3 linked regions of the Homo sapiens genome follow. The protein of the gene in region 2 interacts with the protein of the main gene of each other region in a pairwise test. Each region holds a gene or a part of one and is shown on either strand. Other genes may lie near its edges.

What was found.
Region 1: the proteins of MFF (region 2) and TMEM218 interact in binary tests that used the Homo sapiens proteins (3 or more experiments, as listed by UniProt).
Region 3: the proteins of MFF (region 2) and AQP3 interact in binary tests that used the Homo sapiens proteins (3 or more experiments, as listed by UniProt).

What each region holds. Positions count from the first base shown.
Region 1 is NC_000011.10:125,100,716-125,109,527, forward strand, and holds part of TMEM218 (transmembrane protein 218), read right to left. Parts: intron 2,095-8,812; 5' UTR 2,019-2,094; exon of another isoform or gene 1,951-2,018; coding exon of another isoform or gene 1,922-1,950; intron 1,637-1,921; exon of another isoform or gene 1,603-1,636; coding exon of another isoform or gene 1,527-1,602; coding exon 1,417-1,526; intron 807-1,416; coding exon of another isoform or gene 729-806; intron 589-728; coding exon 486-588; intron 1-485. UniProt on the Homo sapiens protein: May be involved in ciliary biogenesis or function.
Region 2 is NC_000002.12:227,334,144-227,343,113, reverse strand, and holds part of MFF (mitochondrial fission factor), read right to left. Parts: intron 2,823-8,970; coding exon 2,734-2,822; intron 370-2,733; coding exon of another isoform or gene 295-369; intron 1-294. UniProt on the Homo sapiens protein: Plays a role in mitochondrial and peroxisomal fission. Promotes the recruitment and association of the fission mediator dynamin-related protein 1 (DNM1L) to the mitochondrial surface.
Region 3 is NC_000009.12:33,439,749-33,445,494, forward strand, and holds the end of AQP3 (aquaporin-3), read right to left. Parts: intron 4,145-5,746; coding exon 4,018-4,144; intron 3,711-4,017; coding exon 3,573-3,710; coding exon of another isoform or gene 3,457-3,572; exon of another isoform or gene 3,431-3,456; intron 3,223-3,430; coding exon 3,104-3,222; intron 2,771-3,103; coding exon 2,553-2,770; intron 2,464-2,552; coding exon 2,295-2,463; coding exon of another isoform or gene 2,242-2,294; 3' UTR 1,412-2,241; downstream 1-1,411. UniProt on the Homo sapiens protein: Aquaglyceroporins form homotetrameric transmembrane channels, with each monomer independently mediating glycerol and water transport across the plasma membrane along their osmotic gradient. Could also be permeable to urea.

The sequences.
Region 1 (8,812 bases), on a different chromosome or scaffold from region 2:
AGACTGTTGGGAAAATTCTAGCACATGCAGTTGGAGAAGCATGTCCTCAGCACCCTCAGGGCACCACATCAATTTCAGCCCAGGATCTGCAGTTAGGAGCCCAGGCTGCCAGGAATGGGAACACTTCATCTCGGGTGCAGGCCTGTGACTATCCCTATTTCATTTTCTTTTTTTTCTGTCCCCATGGTACGAGGTGGCTTTCCAACAGGCTGTTTTCAACTTGATGCAAACTGAAGATGAGACCAAATCAGGCAAATAACTGCCTGGTGGGGTTGTAGATGGAATTCAGAGTAAGATTCTTTTCCTGAGTGAAGGGGCAGGGGAACTTAAAACTCCCTCTGAACTTTCCCCGTCATTGGTTGAACTTTACAATTCTGACATCTCAGGCAACCCGATGTCAGGGAACATCAAGGGCAGGACGGATGTGCAGACCAAGAGAAATAAGAATCACAGCTCAGGAGGCAAAACGAAAGCAACAGCTTTACCTTAACTTCCACTTCTGGGGCTGGGAATTCACCAGCTCGCGGGAAAAGCAACAGAACTGATGTGATGATCACAGCACCGAAGAATAAAAAAATGACAGAGAACCTGGGGTTAAAAAGACAAATTATTAAAAGCACTGTCTATAATTTCTTCTTTGATCAGTTAGGTCTGGACAGTCTCTTCCTTGGAGCCAATATTCTATGTTTCAGTCCCTTAACAATGTCCAGAGGCCTGCTGTCAACAACCTCTTCATCCCAAAGTCCTTCTTCCTAGACAGGTACCAGCTGGGTGCATTCCCATTTATTCTTGGTAATTCCCAATTCCTAAGAATGGAAATGTGTAGTTTTTATTTTTACTTCTGCCCAAAGTCATAATCAAGAAAAACCAAAGCATCCCCTCTCCACCTCCACTTCTGTTGTTTTTAGAACAGAATACTTTAGAAAATTCTACAACTCTCTGCTTCATACTAACACTGTCTTGCCAGAGTGCAACTCTAGTGTTTTCAGAGTCGGTTTATGGCCTAACCCTGTTCTGAAGGCAATGCCTGATATAGAAAGCAGGCCCAACTCATCAAATGTTGCTTTCGTTTTCCTGGGTCCAGGGCTAGAGCCTCGGGTACTGGACCAAGCCTCTGCCATAAATCTGAACAATTCATAAACACATACACATACAGCCTCAAGAAACTCAATAAGCAGTGAAAGCAGAGTTTCTTGCCACAGTTAGAACTCAAGAACACTACTTCCTTCTCCTCCCATCTCTGCTCCAGAGCATAAATAACACAGTTAGTGTTTATAAAAAGAGGTTAAAATGCAACTCATTCAAACTGCCAGTAATTACAAAACTGATCTCTTAAATTCTAAATGTTTAGTGAGCATCAGCGATTTTGCCTCTAATTGCTTTACCTAGGACTCCCAGTTGGACAGAATGCCTTACCTCGCCGCCCCGGAGGCTCTGGACAGCAGCACACACAGCAGCAGCACTGCCACCCAGAGCAGGGCTAAGATGAACACGCCCGCACCGACTCCGAGCACAGTGCCAGCCATCCCGCGGGGAGGCAGCGGCGGCCCCCCGCCCTGCGCGCCGCACGATCGAGTGTCCTCTGTGCTCCAGTGCAACACACTCCCGTGAAAGCATTCAGACAAATACAGAAAGCCTAAACTCATTACAGGTTATTTTTTGATGATCAGTGTGTTAGGAGGATTACTCAGTACAGGTCATTAATTTTCAGAAATGTCCAGTCCCAGAGTCCCTTAATGGAAACTGGAAATTTAGAACCCAAAGCCTTTCTCTTTGGTGGGGACTGAGAGGGTGTTTTCCGCTCTGCGCTCAGAAGTTTTTTCTGAGTGTTTCCTTTCAAATTTGGTACCTGAGTTCTACTTTGACCTCTTCCCCCAGCCCACGGGAGAAAGCTGAACCCTCTCTGAATATAAAACCCTACCTAAGAACTGGTAGAAGACACCAGGGCATGGGAACTCCAGGGCCAAAGCAGAAGTTGAAGCTCTCAGGTTAAATCCATGGTGTGAGCTGTGACTCACCAGGCAATGGATCACAAGACAGAAAGTTCCCACTCTGTTGTCGAGTTCTTATTCAAGAGGATGAAAACTCCCAGTCCTTAAAGAAGAGGAACAGCCATCACTATTTTTGAACATTCACTGTGTGCTAAGTGCCGTACAAACATATCTCATTGAATCCCGGAGCGAAGCTTCTGAGAAAGGTATTACTATAGCCATGTTACAGGATGGGTAAGTGAGATATAAGCGCGATGGGGTATCTATTAGTTTCCTAATTAGCAGCTCAAAATAGAAATTTATTTTCTCACAGGCCAGCAATCCAAAATAAAGGTGTCAGCAGGGCTGTGCTCCCTCCAAAGGCTCTAGGGCAGGGGTCCCCAACCCCTGGGCCATGGACTGGTACTGGTCCATGGCCTTTTAGGAACTGGGCCGCACAGGAGGAGGTGAGCAGCAGGCAAGCCAGCCTTACCACCTGAGCTTCGCCTCCTGTCCTATCAGTGGCAGCGGCATTAGGTTCTCACAGGAGCACGAACCCTAGTGTGGACTGCACGTGCGAAGCATCTAGGTTGCAGGCTCCTTATGAGAATCTAATGCCTGAAGATCTGAGGTGGAACAGTTTCATCCGGAAACCACCCCCCTGCATCCCCCTGTGGAAAAACTGTCTTCCATGAAACCAGTCCCTGGTACCAAAAAGATTGGGGATCAGTGCTCTAGGGGAGAATCTTTCCCTGCCTCTTCCATCTTCTGGTAGCTCCAGGCACCATTCACTGGCTTTTAACTCACAACTCCAGTCTCTGCCTCCATCTTCCCATGGCATTCTCCTGTGTCTGTCTTCACATTTTCTGTCTCTTATAACGGTACTTGTCATTGGATTTAGGGTCTGTACAAATAATCTAGTATTATCTTGAGATGCTTAACTTAATTAAATCTGCAAAGACCCTTTTGTCAAACAAGGTCATGGTCACAGATTCCAGGGGTGAGGATGCGGACATATATTTTTGGGGACCACCATTCAACTCACAGCAGAGGAACAGCACACCACACTACCTCTCCTGGTTTTCCTTTTCAGCATTGGAGACAAGTCTTAAGCAAACACATTCCTCTAGGTTGCTGGTTTTCTTTACCCTTATGGTTTAAATACCACGAAAATATTAGCTATGAGAAGTTATAAAGTTATTGGAAAGGAGGGTCTAAGCATGAACTGGTAAAAAAAATACGTTTATTGAATCAACATTTATGATGTTCCCACCATGTAAAGCACTGCGCTACAAGCTGGGGATGCCAAAGGTGAATAAGATATCTTCTGACAGAAGCTCAAGGTCTATTGGAGAACATTGTCCTGAAAACAAGTGTCCATATTACATTCTGATTAATGGTAAAAGCGAAGTGCAGTGGGAACTGCAATAGTGAGAGGGGCTTTACAAAGGAAATACTCTGCACAGGCACATTTAGGAAAGAATCAGAGTGAAAAGATGACAGAGTGAGGGGAGATGGGACCTGGGGCCCACCTGCATGCCTAACTTCTCTGGGGAGCAGTCTGCCCTCATTAGGGCCACATGGGCGCCATCTCGGTCACTCTAACACGCCCGGGGTTTCCCCATCTCTGGGTCTTTGTACTTGCTGTTTCCACTGCCTGGAACTAGCCCTCAACCCCAAGCACTCCTGCTACTATTTGTAGGACTGGCTTTCCTCAGCCTTCTGATTTCTGCTTAAATGTCACTCTTCAGTGAGGTCTTCCCCGAGTGTCTTCTCTAAAGTAACCCCTCAAACACTGACTCTCCATCACTCTATTTCCTTCAGAGCATTTTTCACAAAACTAGTTAATATTTTCATTTATTTGTTTACAAGTTTATTTTCTGTCTGTCCAACTAGAATAGTAAACTCCACGAAGGCAGAGACCTGATATCTTTCTCACTGTGGTAACCCCAGTTCTTAGCACAGAGATTATGCACAACAAGTATCTGTGGGAGGAATAAATGACACAGTGCTAACAAGTCCACAAACATCAGGTGAGGGAGTGAAAGGATCATATGGAGTTTTAGAAAGATGACTGTAACCTCTGGTCAATATGCTGGATGGAAGTTAACAAGGGAAGTGCCTCATACAACAGCAAACACATAAATGTTCAATAAAATAGAACAAGAAGAATTTAGTACACAGCAGAGCTCGAAAGCAATAAAGAAAAATCATTAAGTGCTATAAAAAAATGTAACTCAAGGCCTGAGCTGAGCCTAAAAGTCTACGAGGGTCCTGGTGCCTGATACAGACCTTCAGGGTGATTCTCTTCAGGGCAGATAAGGTCTCAAGCCCACGATGGCAAAGAACTAGCAATGAGAACAATGCAGAAAGCTGGGCCCTCACAGGATTGACCAGTTTTTGAAATAGGGTCTAAATAATTTGCTACTGACTTAGTTGGAAGGAAGCTGGCTGAGTGCTTCAGGCCACAGGTCAAAAAACAACAGCCCAAGAGAAATCTGAATCCCCACCTCACATCATATCCATGTGTGAGATTCAATACTACCGATGTGATATGGGAATCCCAAATAGAAAGATTAACATGAAAACTAGACTAAAAGTGAGAACCCATTGGATCCCAGCAGAGACAAAACTAAACCCACAGGCTGGCATGCAAGACTCCCTCAAGAGTAAGTGTAAAACAAAGATGTTTTCAGACATACAAAGGGTGAAATGTAGTACACCTCTCAAGGATCCTCAGTGAAAGGGCTACTCAGAGACATACTTCAGCAAGAAGGAAAATGAACCAAGAAAGGAGGTATGAGATACAGGAAGCATGGTGAGAAAATTATTAAGAAATATTGACAGTAAAGATTTCTGTAATAATGACAATTTTTGAGGGGTTAAAAATCAGAAAGGACTAAATATTACTCAACAGTTATATGGTAGATGGAAAAGGATAGTTCAAAGTTAAAGCATTCTACAGTGATTTTGTTTTGGAGGAGGTATATGTTTTTTAAGCTAAGTACACAAGTTAAAAAAACATACAGGTAAACAGCAAGCAACAGAAATAGAAAAAATAGCTTCTATACTAGTAAAGTGAAAAAAAAATAAAGAAAACAGAAAGTGGGGCAAGGGTCAGTGGGTGTGAGGTGGGTGGCAGAACAAAGAATACGCAAGGAAAATGGAAAATACAAAATAAGATTGTAAAAATAAACCCAAATACAACAGTAATCATAGTACATGGAAACATTATATTTGACTACTAAAAGAAATTCTCTTAGATTTTTCTTTTTAAAAATAGCTGTGTACAAAAGCTCTACAGAAAGTATAATGAGAGGCTGAAAATAAAGAGATTGAGAAAGACATGCAAAGCAAATATTAACAAGACAAAAACCAGGGAAGGAGGGAATAGGGAGATGGTGAATGAGTATAGAGTTTCAGTTTTGCAAGATGAAAGCATCTTGGAGCTCTGTTTCACAACACTGTGAATATACTTAACACTGCTGATCTGCACTCTTAAAAATGGTTAAGACAGGAAATTCTGTTTTTTTGTTTTTGTTTTTGTTTTTTTATAAGCCACAGTTGAAAAAAAACCAAGTGAAACAAAATAAAATATAAGCTATGAAGCAATATTAGTACCACGCAAAACAGATGTAAAGCTCTGAAAAATATTAAGAACAGTGACAAAAGGAACCATTCAGTAAAAAGATACAACCTGAAACAAATGTGAACCTAACAACAAAACCTCCAAATATATAAAGCCAAAACTGACAGAAGTACTACAATAAATGTATAAAACCACTAATTTAGCAGGAGATTTTAATATATGTCTCAGAAACTGATAGATCAAGCAGATAAAAAAAGAATAAACACTTGAGAAAGAGGATACCTGAATGAGAATAAATATGTAAAAAGGTGCTCAACTTCATTAGTCATCCGGAAATTGCAAATTAAAACCAAATTCAGTGCCTTCATATACCCACCAGAATGGCTAACATGAAAACAACAGACAACAGCAAGTGTTGACAAAGATGTGGAGTAACTGGAACCCTCATATACGGCTGGCAAGGGCCATAATTTGTTAACCACTGCTTTGGAGACTATTGGCAGTATCTAATAAAGCTAAATATAAATGCATCCTACATCCAGCTCTTCTATTCTTAGGTGTATTCCCAACAGAAACGCACACCTAAATTCAAAAAAAAGACATTGCAGCCCTACCTGAAATAGCTAAAACCTTAAACAATCCAAATATCTGCCAATAGAGTGGATATAGTACTCTACAATCTATTCATTCATACAGTATATAAAGCATTATGTAGTATAAAGCAATGAGAATAGTATAAAGCAATGAGAAAGAACACACTACAACTATACTCAACAATGTGGATGAATTTCACAAATATTAAATGAAAAAAGCTAGAGGCTAAAGAGTTCATAGTATATGAGTCCATTTATATAATGTTCAAAACAGGTCAAACTAATTTTAGGGGCTGGAGGTCAGGCGTATGGTTGGCTTGTGAAACATAGTGACTGTAGGAGGTTCAGGGAGATGCTGATAAAATTCTGTTTCTTGATCTGGGTTTTGTTCACCTGGGTTTGTTCATACGGTGATGTTGTATCTAACCATGCACTTAGGATTTATATACTTTTCTGTATGTGTATTACCCTTCACTAAAATGTTTACAGAAAGAATATTAAGAGATGTATCAGCCATGTGTAGTATATGGACCCTTATTTGGTCCTGATTCGAACGAAGCATTGCAAAAACCTTTTATGAAATGATTGGGGAAATCTGAAGAATATTCAGATATTTGATAATATTATGAAATTACTGTTTGTATTTTCAGTGAAAAAACACTATTAAAAAGATGATATTATTATATTGTTAAAAGATTATTTATGATAAAGATATATGCATACACACGTAGCACATTACAGATAACAGAAAAGGGTTTCTAGGAGCTTTCTATTACCTCAGTGAGAGGAGGTGAAGGGGCTGACATGAAACAAGACTGGTCATGAGCTAGTTGTTGAAGCTGGGTGATGAGTGTGTAGATGTTTGCTAGCCTATTTTCTATATTTCTGAATATATTTTAAACTTTCATAATAAAAAGATGTGGATATGTGTGTATATATATATATATATCTGCATAAATATGAATATAAAAGATGAGTAAGATTTGTATAGCTAAAATTATAAAACTTTATCAAAGACAAAAAAAAAAAAAAGAGAGAGAGAGGACCTGAATAAAGAAATAAAGCAGACCTGAACAGAGAAATAACCTGTGTTCCCGGATGGGATGGTTCAATTAAAAAAATCTCAATTTTCCTTAACCTATAAATTCAATGCAATCCTAACCAAAGTCTAAAAACAATTTTTTGTGGAACTTGAAAACGGATCCTAAATTCATATGGAAGAGCAAAAACCCAAGAATAGCCAAAACAATTTTGAGAACTAGGATGGCAACTTGCCTTTCTTGTTACCAACTGCCGCAAGACACATTGAAAAACCAAAGTAATTAAAACAGTGTGATAGTGGCACAAAGACACATGGCCCAGTGGTATAAAATCAAGAACCCAGAAACAGATCCATGCATTTGTGAGAACTTCCTACAGCACAGAGTTGGCTTTATGATTCAATGGGTAAAGAACTTCATAGATAGTGTTGGGACAAATGATTCTCCAATAGGAAAAGAATAAAACTAGATCTCTATATGATATACAGAAGTTGATTTTAAATGGAAAGTAATTCGTAATGAAATAGCATATGTTTAAATATACAAATGTTCAGGCTGACTACACTAGAATACATAATGAAGTACAGTAGTCAGATGCTTGCACCTAAACTTAGAATCACCATGAATGCAAAAGCTTCAAATGCAGACTATGCAGGTGTGTTGTTCTGGCAACTCAAATACCACGAGCTGTGCTGCCTTCAGTTATGTGATTTGCTAGAGTGATGAACAACTCTTGTTAAAGTTCCAAACCACAAATAAGTATAATTTTCCTCTGATTTACATTAGAGTTGCATTCCTGGAAATTTTACTATATTAAACTGTGCCAAAAAATACATTATGTTTATACAAAAACCGGAGTTAGGCTCTACACTCAGATAATTATAAATGAGTATCCTGTGGGATACTCAAAATTTGCACAGGATGCAGGACAATTCTTCGTTGTGAGGACTGTCCCATACATTACAGAACATCCAGTATCCGCAGTCCTGATCTGTAAACCCCAGTAGTGCCTCCAATCAAAGAATAACAAAATACATCTTCACAAATTCCAAAACACCCTAAAACGGGCAGCAACATCTTCTTGGGGAACCACTGTTCTAGACACAGTCTTGCATAAAGAGACATGTACAAGGTGTTTATTGCAGCTTTGTTTACAATAGCAAAACATCAGGAAAAAACCTAAATGTCCATCAATCAGGGAACAGATACAATATTATATATTCATAATGAATACTTAAAATGAATGAAATTGATCTATATGTATTGATGTGAATATATCTCAAAAACAATGTTGAGTGACAAAAACAAGTTGCAAAATGGAACCCACAGTATGATACTACTTGTATTTTTAAAATTAAATACAATCTAAACAGTAATATATATTGTTTCTGACGAACGTATATACAGCAAAAGTATAAAAACATGGGCATAAACAATACATGACAATTTCAAAAGACTATTTGCCTCTGCAGAGGGAGGAAGGAAAGGGAATGGGGTTAGGAGTGGAAATAAAAGGGATCTGAACTAAATCTGTGATGTTTTATTTCTTTAAAATAAAAAACTTGAGCTGGTGTGCCAAAATGTTAATATTTATTAATCTGATTGGTGGAACATAGATAT
Region 2 (8,970 bases):
AAGCAAAATAAACAAAAAAGGATGCTTGGTCCTTATGTGCATATTATATTTCAGGTTCCTTTCACCAACACATGCAAAATCATATACAACTTCCTTAGATGGTCTAGTTTTTTTTTTTCCTTAATAAAGCATATAATGACAGTTTGAGAAATCCTGAAACAGAGGTACTAAAAAGCCAAACAGGAAGATAATTAGGATAGCATACGTCAATTACCTGGTGAATAGATTAGTATTAACATAATCCTTCAAAATCAAAACAACTACTTGTCAAAAGCAGAGCAGATAAAATCTTACGTGTACTCCGGTGCAGAAATCGGTGCCTGGAACCTTGAAATTTTATTTCTTGGGGCAGAATCTGATCTGTGCCACCTTAAATAATAATTATGCTTCTTTTACATATTCAGCTTTTATAACACAAAGAAAAAGCTAGATCTGATTTTACTGTTTAGAATTCACTTTTGCGCTAATAGCTGACCACAATCTTATTGCCTCTTCGAAGTAATTAAGAAAACAAAGGCTAGTGCTCCTGCTCTCATACCCGTTCGCACTTTTATTCTTAAAGCCATGGAATAAAATAAAGTGGAGACAGGCAAAGTTTCATGCACTATGACGCACAACAATTTCATGTTACAAAGAAAACACTAAAGTAGGTAAAGATAGTAAGAGTTTAATAATTATTTTAATAGAGGTATTATATCAATTGTTTTTTCCTCACTACGTTAACAACACTGAATAATATGTTCATTATACAAAATTCTAAAGTTAGTAAGATGTAGATTCTTAAAGATAAATTGTAAATTATAAAATTAACAACAGTAGGAAAAGAAAGGGCAAAGTTACATTATTAACAAAATACATACATAACATGGTAATATACTTTACAACCATAATGAAAAATATGGTTAAGCAATGTTAAGTGTTTCACTGTGAAAATGTATAAAGATTCATTACTTTTACTATCAAAAATGAGATTTTCAGTTTTACTAAAAATTTAGAAAATGTCATTAAAGCAACTTAAAGAAAAAAAAAGAAAATCAAGTATTAGTTAACACTGTAAATCTTTTCTGTTATGAGGAACTTATGTTATTGAGTAAATACAAAAACATCTATATCATCTACTCTAAATTATACTTCACTGGACTGGTTTTCGTACATAATAAAGGGGTTTCCTTTCTCTTCAGCTGAATGCAGCTATAAATAATATATACTTCGGGAGAAAAAATAAGAGTGGTGCTATATTACAATAATCTTGTTTTTATTAATATAAAATGTCAAAGTAGCTAAGAACCTAAATAGTAAGCCACATCTTTATAAAGTGGAAAAGCTTACTAGAAATCTTTGTTGCCTTAGGATAATGTTACAAAAAGAAAATAATTAAAGCTCTTGAGTGTATGTTTAATCACTCTAAAGCAGATCAAGAAGCCACCTTAGCCATAAATGATACAGCCTCTTTACCGTTTGTGTAATACATTTGGAAATAGTCTAGAAAAAATGGATTTCATGGGCCTGCTGACATCACTGCTAACCAGATACCTTTAGGGAAAACACAATCAAAAAATTTTATATTACTAATGGTTGAATCTTGCATAAGCATTCCCTGAAGGAGATATATATTCATTTTAACCTGCTCTCTTCCTACACAGCCTTTCAGAATAATTTTAACTACCTTAGGAGATATTTCAATATTCTATAAGAAATCAGAGCAGTTTTAGTTCTCCTTTCACCTAACACAAGAGAATGGAATTTCAGTAAGGCAAGCAAATAATTTATATAGAAATTAGAACTTCCTTGTTCTTTCAAAGCAAGGATTTGAAAAAAAAAAAACCTCTCTCTACCTTTAATATCAATGACCCTAACCCCAACAAAACCCCTTCTGTACCCCTATACTCTTTAGAGAGGTCCAAACTAGAGATTAATATGCTGTAATATAAATCACTGTATTGTCCTCTAGTTATTTTGTAAATAAAATTAAATGCTTTGCTTCTATTTAGATTTGCTAGCTCTCAGAAGAGATGTATCATCTCCTGATTCTTTCAGTTTCCACAGACGCTTACATGATACTTGCCATCACATGTGGTTCATGAGTTTACGAAAATTGGCCAAAACATTAATGAGGAAGAAATATTAATTTATATTTAAAAAGCCACTACTGACAATGACTTTCTGATTAAAATTCTGACCAGTTTTCGAAGAACATTTTGTTTGTAAAAATCCATTAATTTTAATAAAAAAGTAAAAAAGCACTGACATTAATAATCTTGTGGTAGCTTTAAGATCAGAATTTGATAATACAACCAAATGAAAAAGAAAGGTTTAAACAAATAGTCTTTTAAACAACATACTTGTATGTTCTGAAAATGAAAAGGACCAAAAAATTCAATGAATCGTAAGGGAGAAAGCTAAAAAATACTTTTGGAAAGAAAAAAATTCTATTTGTCTTGCTACACTGTTTAACATAGCTCATTAGAAGCAAAGCTGGAAAGGACCAGTTCACCATCTTATGACAACTTAATTAGCAAATCATACTACACAGGAAAGGATAAGGTGACTGAAAAATTCTCAGGACCAACAAAATGGCCAGATTTTAAGATTACAAAAAGTATTACAAAAATATAAAATTGATGTAAAACAAATTTTAAAAACTACATGAAGTAATTATTTAGAAAAACATGGGTACAGAAAATATCCTGAGAAAACTTACAAACGAGATAAAATGCTAGTGCTTCTACTCACAGAGAATCATTTCTGACCAGCTGTCCATTTTGGCGAACAGCATTTTCACTCATAGACCGCTCTCTTTTTAGTCTGCCAACTGCTCGGATCTGTTAAGGCACAAAGAGAGGGAAGGAAATAGAAATATTCTTAGTAGGCTAGTAGCTGCTTAGCATCAAAAGAACCTCGATACAAGGCTACTCAAAAAACTTACAACGAACTAAGAAAAGGCAACCAAGAATTGCTGCCAGGCAGTGTATTACTGACAGACTTGCTTTAAAAACAAAACAAGACACACACACACACACACCCTACTTACTATAATGCAGATAAACAGGAATGTCTATTTACTTTAAGAACGCTACTCTAGTTTCTTTTTAAGTATCAATTTTACTTGGTACAATTATTATTTGTTTAACCTTATGGTATATACTTATTTATAAGAACAATTTATAAAAGTGTTTACAGGCACATATAGGAAATGGAGAGCATCTGTATTATAAATAAACCTTCCTGGCTTCTACGGTTGTAACAAATTAAGATTTGGTTGAATATTTGAAAACTAGACTAAAAATGTATCTAGCTTAATGGTTTTGGCATTCCAGAATGGCTGCAATCTCTAATCCCACATGCTCTTCTTATGAAATGTATCTTTGACCTTCTTCATTAAGAGACAGGATCTGTTTCTTTCCCCTGAAATTCAGAGGGCTGGTGACTCCTATAGAAATGATGCAAAGTGACTTCTGAGGCTAGGTCATAACAGTACAGCTTCTGCCTTTCTTTCCCCAGGTTGCTCATATTTGGAAGAATGGCACCATGACACAAGGAAGGCCAAGTAGCCACACAGTGAGGCCATGTGTAAGTGCACCTGCCAACAACCCTAATGGAGGTCCCAGACAACAGCTAGTACCAAGTGACATGTGAGTGAGCAAACCTTCAGATAACTGCAGATCCAGCTGTTGAGTTATCCTTTGCCTTTGAGACTTCCTAGCTTAGGCCCCAGACATTGAAGAACAGAAACAAGCTTTTCCCTTCACGGCAACTGCAAATACCTAACCCACAGAATGCTTGAGCAAAACATAGGCTTGTTTGTTTTAAGCCACTAAGTTTAAGATGATTTGTTACACAGAAATGGATAACTAGAACAGTGATAATCATTAACTTTTCTGCTTATTTGAAAATACCTTTTTTTTTTTTTTTGAGATAGGATCTTGCTCTGTCATCCAGGCTGGAGTGCAGTGGCATGCTCATGGCTCGTTGCAGCCTCAGCCTCCTGGGCTCAAGTGATCCTTCCATTTTAGCCTCTGAAGTAGCTGGGACTATAGGCACACACCACCGCACCTGGCTAATTTTTGTATTTTGTAGAGATGGGGGTTTTGCCATGTTCCCCAGGCTGGTCTCGAACTCCTGAGCTCAAGTGTTCTGCCCACCTTGGCCTCCCAAAGTGTTGGGATTACAGGTGTGAGCCACTGAGCCCAACAAAAATACTAAAAAAAACAAAACAAACAAAAAACCCCCCACTAAAATAGCCATGGCAACATTATGGTTTTTTTTTTTGTTTTTTTTTGAGACAGAGTCTTGTTCTGTCGCCCAGGCTGCAATGCAGTGGCACAATCTCGGCTTGACTCACTGCAAACTCTGCCTCCCGGGTTCAAGCAATTCTCCTGCCTCGGCATCCTGAGTAGCTGGGATTACAGGTGTGTGCCACCACACCTTGCTCATTTTTGTATTTTCAGTGGAGACGGTGTTTCACCATGTTGGCCAGGCTGGTCTCGAACTCCTAATCTCATGATTTGGCTGCCTCAGCCTCCCAAAGTGCTGGGATTACAGGCGTGAGCCACTGCGCCCGGCCGACATTATGGTTTTTAAAAAATTAAACTTTATAGTAAAAAAACAAATAGTGTGTGAATTAAGGACTTGAAAATTAAGATTTTCAAAATATCAATCAATATTTATTGATGTTTTTGGTTGGGCACGGTGGCTCACACCTGTAATCCCAGGTGGATGTTTTTCTTTTCTTTTTTTTTTTTTTGAGACAGAGTGTCACTCTGTTCCCCCAGGCTGGAGTGCAATGGTGCTATTTCAGCTCACTGCAACCTACACCTCCTGGGTTCAAGCAATTCTCATGCCTCACCCTCCCGAGTAGCTGGGATTACAGGTGCATGCCATCTCGCCCAGATAATTTTTGTTATTTTTAGTAGAGATAGGGTTTCACCATGTTGGCCAGGCTGGTCTTGAACTCCTAACCTCAAGTAATCCACCCACCTTGGCCTCCCAAAGTACTGGGATTACAGGTGTGAGCCACCATGCCCGGCCTGGATGTTTGTTTTGTTTCAATCTGAGATTTTTTTTTTTTTCCAGATAGGGTCTCATTGTGTTGCCCAGGATGGAGTACAGTGGCACAATCTTGGCTTATGCAATCTCTGCCTCCCGGGTTCAAGAGATTTTCATGCCTTAGCCTCCTGAGTAGCTGAGATTACAGGTACACACCATGACCAGCTAATTTTTGTATTTTTTGGTAGAGATGGGGTTTCACCATGTTGGCCAGGCTTGGTGATCTCTTGACCTCAAGAGATCCACCCACTTCGGCTTCCCAAAGTGCTGGGATTACAAATGTGAGCCACTGTGCCTGGCCTCAATGCAGAATTTTAAAATGTCTTTCAGAATCATCCTTCAGTGGTTATGCACTTAGTTTTATTCATCCCGGAGGCTGAGAAATAGTTTCCTAAGTTCAAGCAGCTTCCTGGAAGTTGGGTCACAGTGTCTAGTGCTACATAGTTATATAACATGTAGCACTAGACACTTTGCATGCTTGCATACAATTCTCCTTTAATATGCTTACACCCCAAGTTAAATTTGATTGTTCATAAATTCCTGGGCAAGTAAATGTCCTCTAGGTTTTTTGATGGCTGATTCTCTCAATCTGTTCAAAGCCCACCTCTTCTTCAGGAATCTACTCAGAGCCTTCGTGTTTTTCCTCTATACTCACCCCCATTTTCTGTGGGACTTTTATGCAGAAGGGGGAAAGGTACAAATTATCAATGTAGACTGAACAGTTGGGATAAATATCTTCCCTCCCCAACATGTGCATTGTCCAAAATTTAAAATCACGAATCATGGGGAGAACAGTTAAGCCAGTGACTGCGGGTTTTGGGAAGGACACATAGCCCAATTTGTCAGGAGTGACGAGACCATGCTTGTGCTAAGAGGGCCATAAAACTGTAGCTGTACAAAGAACGCAAGTGTCCATCTCTGAATTTTCCATGCATGAATGTGTAAACATATATACAATTCAGCTTTTCCTCTTCTCTCCAGACTTTTGCTCCATTCTGCTCATTGCAGTCCCAGCTCCTCTTTCCAGAAGTGATGAGGAAGGAAAAAGAGCTCAAGAAACCATCACCAAAGTGTGATCAGACCCATATTCATGAAGTTCTTGATTTTCTAAGCTTCCACAGGACCCTTTTAAATATTCACTGAGTCCCTGGGAGCCCTTCTGCATTTGTTTTAGGATATGTCATATAGCTATGGTTTTTTGCTTCACATCCTTAGCGTTGTCATATCAATTGAACTGGGCACCAATAACCATCTGCTACTTCTTTACGGTAGAATTACAGGTCTAGGGCCTTCTGCTAGACATTCATGGCTTTTGTGTCATCCTTCAGATTCTAAGGCTGCTGCTTTCTAAGTATAATCTGTGTTAAGGGTGGATCTAGCTAGATATTTCTTCTACTCCTCCAGCTCTGGCTGTACACTTTGGATATAACTGCTGTAGAATTTGGCATCCTGTGGAGGATGCCATTTGATGGCTTCTGTATAAAGCTGGCATGGCTTGGAGATAGTTCCATTTCTGAAACCACTCAATGCCTTTACTCTTCTCCTCCAAAATCAGGTCAGATTTTATATATGCCAACTGATTTTGCTCTTTCCAGATTAATTCCTAACTATTGACGATTCTTGTGTATATCTGGGGTTCAGTGCTCTTCCAAAGATTTATTATAGAAATGAATAGTATTCTCGTATTTCTCCTCTTTGAAGTAAGAGATGCCAACTTGGGCAAAAGCTTTTACTCTCTATCTTTAGACCAGTCTGTTTTTTCTTCCAACTTCAATGGCCTTCTCACAAAGCTCTTAGGGTTTATTGTAGCTGATTTTTTCAAAGCATATCACGGCTTGATTGATAGGATTTAACGGCAGAGTCCACATCTTTGACTTAGTCACACTGTTCAAGGTTGTGTCAAATCTTCTTACAGGCAGCATTTTCCAACTCTTTCTTTACAGTTCTTCTTTCTTGTTCTCTGGAAGATCCTTCCCCACTGGCTCCAGTTCGGATTCCTTTTTGAGAAGAGCTGGTAATGTCAGTGTTACAGCTTCTTTCTCCTCATTCACACTGCCTAGTCTACTGTAGGAACACTGAAAACTGTCATGACTTGGGCATTTTGTATTTCATGCCCAGATCACATGGTTTATTGAACAGTTGCTTTGTTAGTTCCCAGCAGACAGAATCACCAAGCAATGGTCTTATCTTAGAGCTGATTTCCAAATATTGGTGGAGATTAGGCATATTGAAAGTGTTTGTCAACTTCCTCTCTTCCAGCCAAGCCTCACATTTTTAAACTGTCTTTGAGCTAAGGGATTATTTATGTTATGTTTTAAGCCCTCCTCAAGGGCTCACCTGGATTCTTTAAGCCAGTTTAAGAACTCAAGTACAACTGCTTTCTACAAATTTATCCCTTGCATCAATCAGGCTTTCAGACAACAATTTTATAGGCTTCCTCATAAGCCTTCTCCTTTCTTGAGATAGGTCAGTGGTTTTCAGTAGGGGGTGATCTTGCCCTGTAGAGAACATTTGGCAATGTCTGGAGGTATTTTCTTTTTTATTTTAAAACACACATAACATACACAATTTTAACCATGTTGAAGTGTACAATTCAGCGGCATTTAGTACACTCACAACGTTGTGTAATCATTACCACTATCTAATTCCGGAATATTTTCATCAGCCCAAAAGGAAACCCCATACTGATTAAGCAGTCACTCTCAAGTCCCCTCTCCTCTAACCCCCTGACAACCACTGCTCTGTATCCTGTCTTCATTCATTTGGCCACTCTGGATATTTCATGTAAGTAGAAAAATGCAATATATGGCCTTTGTTGTCTGGCTTCTTAAACTTTACATGTTTTCAAGGTTCATCCATGTTGTGGCATGTATCAGTACCTTTTTTTTTTTTTTTTGAGAGACAGAGTCTGGCTCTGTTGCCCAGACCGGAGTACAGTGGCACAATCTCGGTTCACTGCTACCTCCACCCCGGGGTTCAAGTGATTCTCCTGCCTCCCCCTCCAGAGTAGCTGGGATTACAGGCGTCCACACCACCATGCCCAGCTAATTTTTGTATTTTCAGTAGAGACAGGGTCTCACCATGTTGGCCAGGCTGGTCTTGAACTCCTGACCTCAAGTGATCTGCCCACCTCAGCCTCCCAAAGTGCTGGGATTGCAGGCATGAGCCACCGCACCCAGCCAGTACCTCATTTTTTTATGGCTGAATAAGAGTTACTATATGGCTAGATGATGTTTTGCTTATCCATTCATCAGCTGATGGATATTTTACTTGCTTCCACCTTTTTGCTATTACAGACATTTTTGGATATCATGACTTGGAAGACGGTAATGGCATCTTGTAGATAGAGATCACAAATGTTGCAAACATTCTACAGTGCAAAAAGGTGGCTCTCACCACAACAAGGAATTTTCCAGTCCAAAATGCCAACAGTGCTGAGGTAGAGCACTATTGCTCTACCTCATTCTAGCATCCACTGCAGAATGATACAGAGCAAATGTTCTGGGGATCTCACTTTATCGATTCTGAGTTAACACCTGAATGAATCATCAATGTTATCAGTACTCAGGCCCTTACTGCTTCTCTATTTCAGTCAATTTCTAGAAGCTACTAGAACCCTGGCTCCCTTACCCCTTCCTCCCTTGCTCACTGCAGTTGAGTGCTTCTTGAAGGCTACTGGACCCTTCTATAAGCTTGTATAAACTTGAAGTCCAAACCATCATCTTTGCTTTCAATAAGCAGCTGGTATTAATCTCAGAAACTCGTCTTTCATTTCAGGATCTGGCTCCTGCCACAGGATTTTAAGTCTCTCCTAACAATAACATTTATATATATTGAGCTTTTAACACGAATTAGAACATGCATGATTACATTTAATTCTCATAACAATCTCATGCACTTGGCATTATTCTTATCTTTATTTCA
Region 3 (5,746 bases), on a different chromosome or scaffold from region 2:
CTCCCAAGGTTTGCCCTTCCTCCCCCCAGGGCCTGGGAAGGGGACACTCCCTCTGGCTCAGGTCCCTCCAGCATTCCAGACACGCCTCTTGGGAGCTGGGGACAAAGAAGGGATAGAAACCTAAAATGGTATTGCCTTCTCCTGCCCTCACCTCCGTAGGCAGATTCTTGGCTGTGTGACCCTGTGTTTGCCACCCGCCCTCTCTGGACCATGATCTCATCTGTGAAGGCTGGAGAGCAAAAGCTGGCTTAGCTTCTAAAAACCACAATTCGCCTGCCACACCCAGGGATCCTCTGGCTCCCATGGGGTTCGCTCAGAGGAGGGATTGGGTAGGGGATGCCTTCCCTTGTATTGCATGAAGTTTCCCTTGATGAAACTTGAGGAGGGTATGGTAAGGAAGAAGCAAATGAGAAAAGCTTCCTGTTCTCAGGTGTGCCGAGCCCGTTGCTTTTCTGGGCAAGTCAGAGCGCCAGAGTCAGTCTTCCAACCCCCTGCCTTACTGGGCACAGAGGTGCCTCTGTAGAAGTGAAGAAATGACTGAAGAAATGAAGCAGAAGGGGAGATGAGCGTGAACGCAACTGCGGGTCTTGGCACTTAAGACAGCTGACTAGAAGTTGCTGGAAGAGTGAGGCAGAGCAGGGATGGCTTCCCGGAGGAAGAGGCGTTAAAGCAGATCATGAGGACTTTAATGAGCAAAGATGTGAGTTGGGACTTTGGAGCAAAGTCTGAAGACACAAAAACACAGAAACACATAAAGTAGGCTGAGGTGGATGGAGCCATGTGAGAGGAGGGGTAGGCTCCTGACCCTACCTGGAGGTCCTGAACGCCAGATGGAGCATTGTGGATGGTCTCCAGATGGGCACTTTCAGCAGAGGTTTTGAAGAGATCCCTCTGGTTGCTTTGTGGACTGACTGGGGCAGGCCTGGAGGCAGGGAGGCTGCCAGGGGGGCTGTGGCCAAGGTCTGGGTGGAGGTTATGGAGCCTGAATAGCTGCAGGTTGTGGAGGACAATACAGGTTCCCAGTCTGATGGGTCTCCTCCAGGAACAGGGAACTCACCACCTCCTGGGCAGCAGTTCTCCCCATTGGGTAGCTCTGCAGCAAGATCTTCCCTGCATAGGGCTCAAGCCTTTCTGGGGTGATGTGTGGGTACAGGGATTGGGAAGAAGATTCCATTCATTATGCTGGGGGTACCCATGAGGACGGAAACTTGGGGGAAAGTTTGGGACCACTGAGTTCAAACTGAGAGCCTTGGTGAAGAGGCTCTCTAACCTCTCTGTATGACCCCCAGGGTAACCTGACCAGATCAGACACTCAGCCGGGCACCCTGGGTCAGTGTGGGCATGCGGAAGCTCCTTAACTGGCCCCAGAAAAGCAGCAGAGCAAGCAGAAAGATATTTGCACAACTGGAGGTTTTAGGCACATATTTATTTTATTTTTTTTAATATAAAAGTAAAAGAGTACATTGTTGAGTAGAGGATTAAAGGAGTGACGACCCTTTCTAAAGTGGGGTCTCCCATCCCGGATCCCTAAGACTGTAACATCTGCTACATACATTAAAAACAAAACAAAACAAAAGCAAACATGAAACTTATGACCTGACTTCACTCCACCCTTCATGCCTGCATTATGACAGAAACACGTCCCACTGCTCCTACTTATGTATGTACATCCAGAGCTCCAAACCTAAGCTGTGGCCCCCTCCTCCCAGCCCTACCCACATCCACCCTACTTCCCAAAAGCCTGTAGAAGCCCCCACTTAGAAAAAAAGGCAGACATACACATACACAGAAACACATATCTATCTGCAGCTCCTCCATGTGAAGCCCCTGAAACATACACACCCTGGAACTTTCCTCTCCTTATGCACAGATGGACAGGCTGCCTTCCCCTGTCTCTGGGCTCCCCCAATAGCCAGAATCCCTTCCGACTGGTCCCTTGCCCTGAATATCTGGGAACCCCCCCCACACACACACACCCCTGCACACACATGCACACACATGCACACACATGCACACACACACATACCTGCTGCCCATTCTCTTCCCTTGGGAGACAAAAGGATGTATTGACCCAAATTCCGGTTCCACCCCAGCTTAGGGGCAGTGGCCTAAGGTGCTATTTGGGCAAGGTCCAGTGGAAATCCTGAAGGGGCTGTCTCGTGGGGTGAGGGTAGATAGGGAGCTCCTTAGCCTGAAAGGGTGGATCGTGAAGGGGGCTTCTTGGGAGTGGCCCTTGGACAGTCAGTGGATGCTCAAGGCCAGGGCAGCGGAGTGGGGAGATGGCCCCTGCCCACTCAGATCTGCTCCTTGTGCTTCACATGGGCCAGCTTCACATTCTCTTCCTCGTTGGAGGGTGGGGGCTGCTCCAGGTGGCAGCCGATCATCAGCTGGTACACGAAGACACCCGCAATGGAGCCCAGGAGTGGGGACACGATGGGCACCCACCACCAATGCTGGCCGGTCCTGGGGGGACAGACACTCATAGTCAGGGACATGGGGGGCAGGGCAGAGGAGAGGCAGGCTGGGGTGAGCTGGGTGGGGGCTGTACTCACGTGAAGACTGCAGAGCCCCAGCCCGCAAGGGCTGTAAAAAGGCGGGGGCCAAAGTCCCGGGCAGGGTTGACGGCATAGCCGGAGTTGAAGCCCATGGAGGTGCCAATGACCAGGACCACCAGGCCCACGGTGAAGGCCTCCAGGCCTCGGGGGACGGGGTTGTTGTAGGGGTCAACAATGGCCAGCACACACACGATAAGGGAGGCTGTGCCTATGAACTGGGGAGTGGGGAGAACAGGGTGAGCTGCAGCTCCCTCCCTTTCTCTGACCCCTCCTTCCATCCCCCGTCTTCCCTCTAGCTCTTAAACTCTTGTCAGCGCCCGCCCATGCTCTTCTCCTGAAAGCAATGGTGCTAGAATGTCTGCGTGACAAGAACCCGCTGGAGAGCCGCATGTTTTGTAAGTACTTGCCACCATGTTCTGATGCGGGTTACCCCACAGATTGGAGAAACCCTGCTACAGTCGAGGAGTCCTGTCCCCCAACCAGCCCATGAGCTACCAAGGCAACTCGGTCCCCTCCCTGCGTTCCCCTCACACGTCCCCAGCCCATACCTGGTCAAAGAAGCCATTGATCATATCCAAGTGTCCAGAGGGGTAGGTAGCAAAGATGCCGGCTGTGCCATTGGGGCCCGAAACAAAAAGCTGGTTGTCGGCGAAGTGCCAGATTGCATCTGGTGACAGATTAGACACACAGTGAGTCGGGGGAGAGGCCTGAGCCCAGACTTCCCTCTCAGGTGTGCCCTCCCCACCCTCCCATGAGTTATGGGTAAGTAGCAATACTGCTGTATTGCAGCAGGCAGAGGGGGTGGCGTGGGGTGGGGTGGAGGGCCTGAGACTCTGTTATTGCCCAACTTGTTTCTTTCCCTTCGTGCCCCCTACCTTGACCCTGTGCGTGAATGAGTGAGTCATGAGCCCGGGGCCTGGGCAGGTCCTAGCCGTCTGTCATCAAAAGGCCTGGTGCCAGCAGGTCCTGAACAGAGGGACGGGGGTAGTGGAGGAGGACAGGGTGGGGAATGCTTACCATAATACAGCCCAAAAACTATTCCAGCACCCAAGAAGGCTCCCAGCGTCTGTGCCAGGGTGTAGATGGGCAGCTTGATCCAGGGCTCACGAGCCAGGAAGCACATGGCAAAGGTCACGGCAGGGTTCAGGTGGGCCCCTGGGCAGAGGGGACAAGGGACCTATTAGCTGCAGCCTGCCACAGTCGGCAGGCTAGGGTCCCCTGAGAAGGGGTGCAGAGAGGGGTTTCTTGCACAGGATGGCGGTTGGTCTATGTAACAGGTCAGCTGATAATCTCTGATTCCAAGGTGAGAGTCGAAAGTTCTAAGTGTCAAGTTTCTTCTCCACCCTCCTTTCCCAAGGGGCCAAAGCAGAGGCCACAGCTGTGACCTGCCCTTAGGAATGCCAGGACACCTAGTGGGAATGCTATTGAGGGCCAAGGGCTGGGGGCAGGGTTAAGGCCTTACCAGAGACCTGGCCAGCGATGAGGATGCCCAGAGTGACAGCAAAGCCAAAGGCCAGGTTGATGGTGAGGAAACCACCGTGGGTGCCCCGGCTGAGCACAACCTGGGCCACGGAGCCACAGCCAAACATCTGTCAGGAAGAAGAACAGGCAGGGAGGGTGAGGACCAGCAACTCTCACTCCAGAAGGAAGGGGTGAAGCCAGCAACATGCCCACTCGCCACCACTGGGAGGACTAGAGGCGCTTCCTGGAACCCAGCCCAAACCCCTTCTGCTGTAATTGCACTTTCCAGAAAAAGGACACATGCCTTCCCACCCCACTGTCCCAACTCTAATATGAGAGGGCCCTATGGAAAGGGCTGGAAGCAGGGTCTGCGACTGGGATCCTAGAAGATGACTGAACCATCTTCACTGATTTTCCTTGAATTTCAGCAGGCGTAGGTGTAGGGGAACAGCTTTCACCTTAGCACAAGTTTCTCCACAGCCCTTCAGGCCTGGACCATAAAGGTGGGAAGCCTCTCACTCATCCCCCAGCTGCCCCAAAGAAAAGCTCATGTAGGCCCGGTGCAGTGGCTCACACTGTAATCCCAGCACTTTGGTAGGCCGAGGTGGGTGGATCACCTGAGGTCAGGAGTTTGAGACCAGCCTGGCCAACATAGTGAAACCCCATCTCTACTAAAAGTACAAAAATTAGCCAGGCGTGGTGGCAGGTGCCTGTAATCCCAGCTACTCGGGAGGCTGAGGCAGGAGAATCACTTGAAAATGGGAGGCAGATGTTGCAGTGAGCCAAGATTGCGCCACTGCACTTCAGCCTGGGCGACAGAGCGGGACTCCATCTCAAAAAAAAAAAAAAAAGAGTTGAAAAGAAAAGCTCATGTGGTGGTGGTAGTGGTGGCAATGGGCGGCATAAATAAATAGGGAGGAGACCAGAAGTGAGGTTGAATCCACTTCTCCTGAGTCCAGGATGCCAGAGCCCCAGCCTTCACCATGTCCCCCTCAACAACCTCCCCTTCCTTTACCTGTCCCTGTCCCAGCGTCTCCTCTCTCCACCCATGACCTCTCTGCTCTCAGGGGTCCAGATTCCCCACTCAGATTTGGAGGTCCTACAGACAGGGATCTGTGTGGCTCCTCTCACTATCCCCAGCCCGGGACCCAGGGCTGTAGAAATGGGGAGATCGGTTCTAAACTTTCTGCCAAAAATGGGGGAACTAAAAGAGACTAAGAGCCCTGGTGTTCTACAAATATAGAACATACTGGAGCCAGCTGTGGTGGCTCACACCTGTAATCCCAGCACTTTGGAGGCTGAGATGGGAGGATCTTGAACCCAGGAGTTTGAGAACAGCCTGGGCAACATAGTGAGACTTTGTCTCTATTTAAAAAAGAAAAAGAACGTACTATGTCTGTTCCCCTTGTTCAAGCCTGAAAATACTTCTGCAGCAGCTGTAAAGCATTGTTGCCCTGAGCCCCCTGAGTGTCCCTCAAAGCTGCTCCAATGCCTTGCCCTGGTCTCCTCTCCCACCTGCCCATAACTAAAGGTTTTATGCCCACAGAGCAGGCAGTTTCCAGGACCTGTGCTACAGACCTTGTTTATTCTGACGGGTCAGTGCCTGTTGTACTGGATAGTTAAGCATTTTGATTATCATCCCAGAAAGACCAAGAGATAACGGAGAAGCCAGCGGCAATGACATGGGGCAAAGGTGTGCAGGCAGGTGAGAGCAAAGATCAGAGATTGCA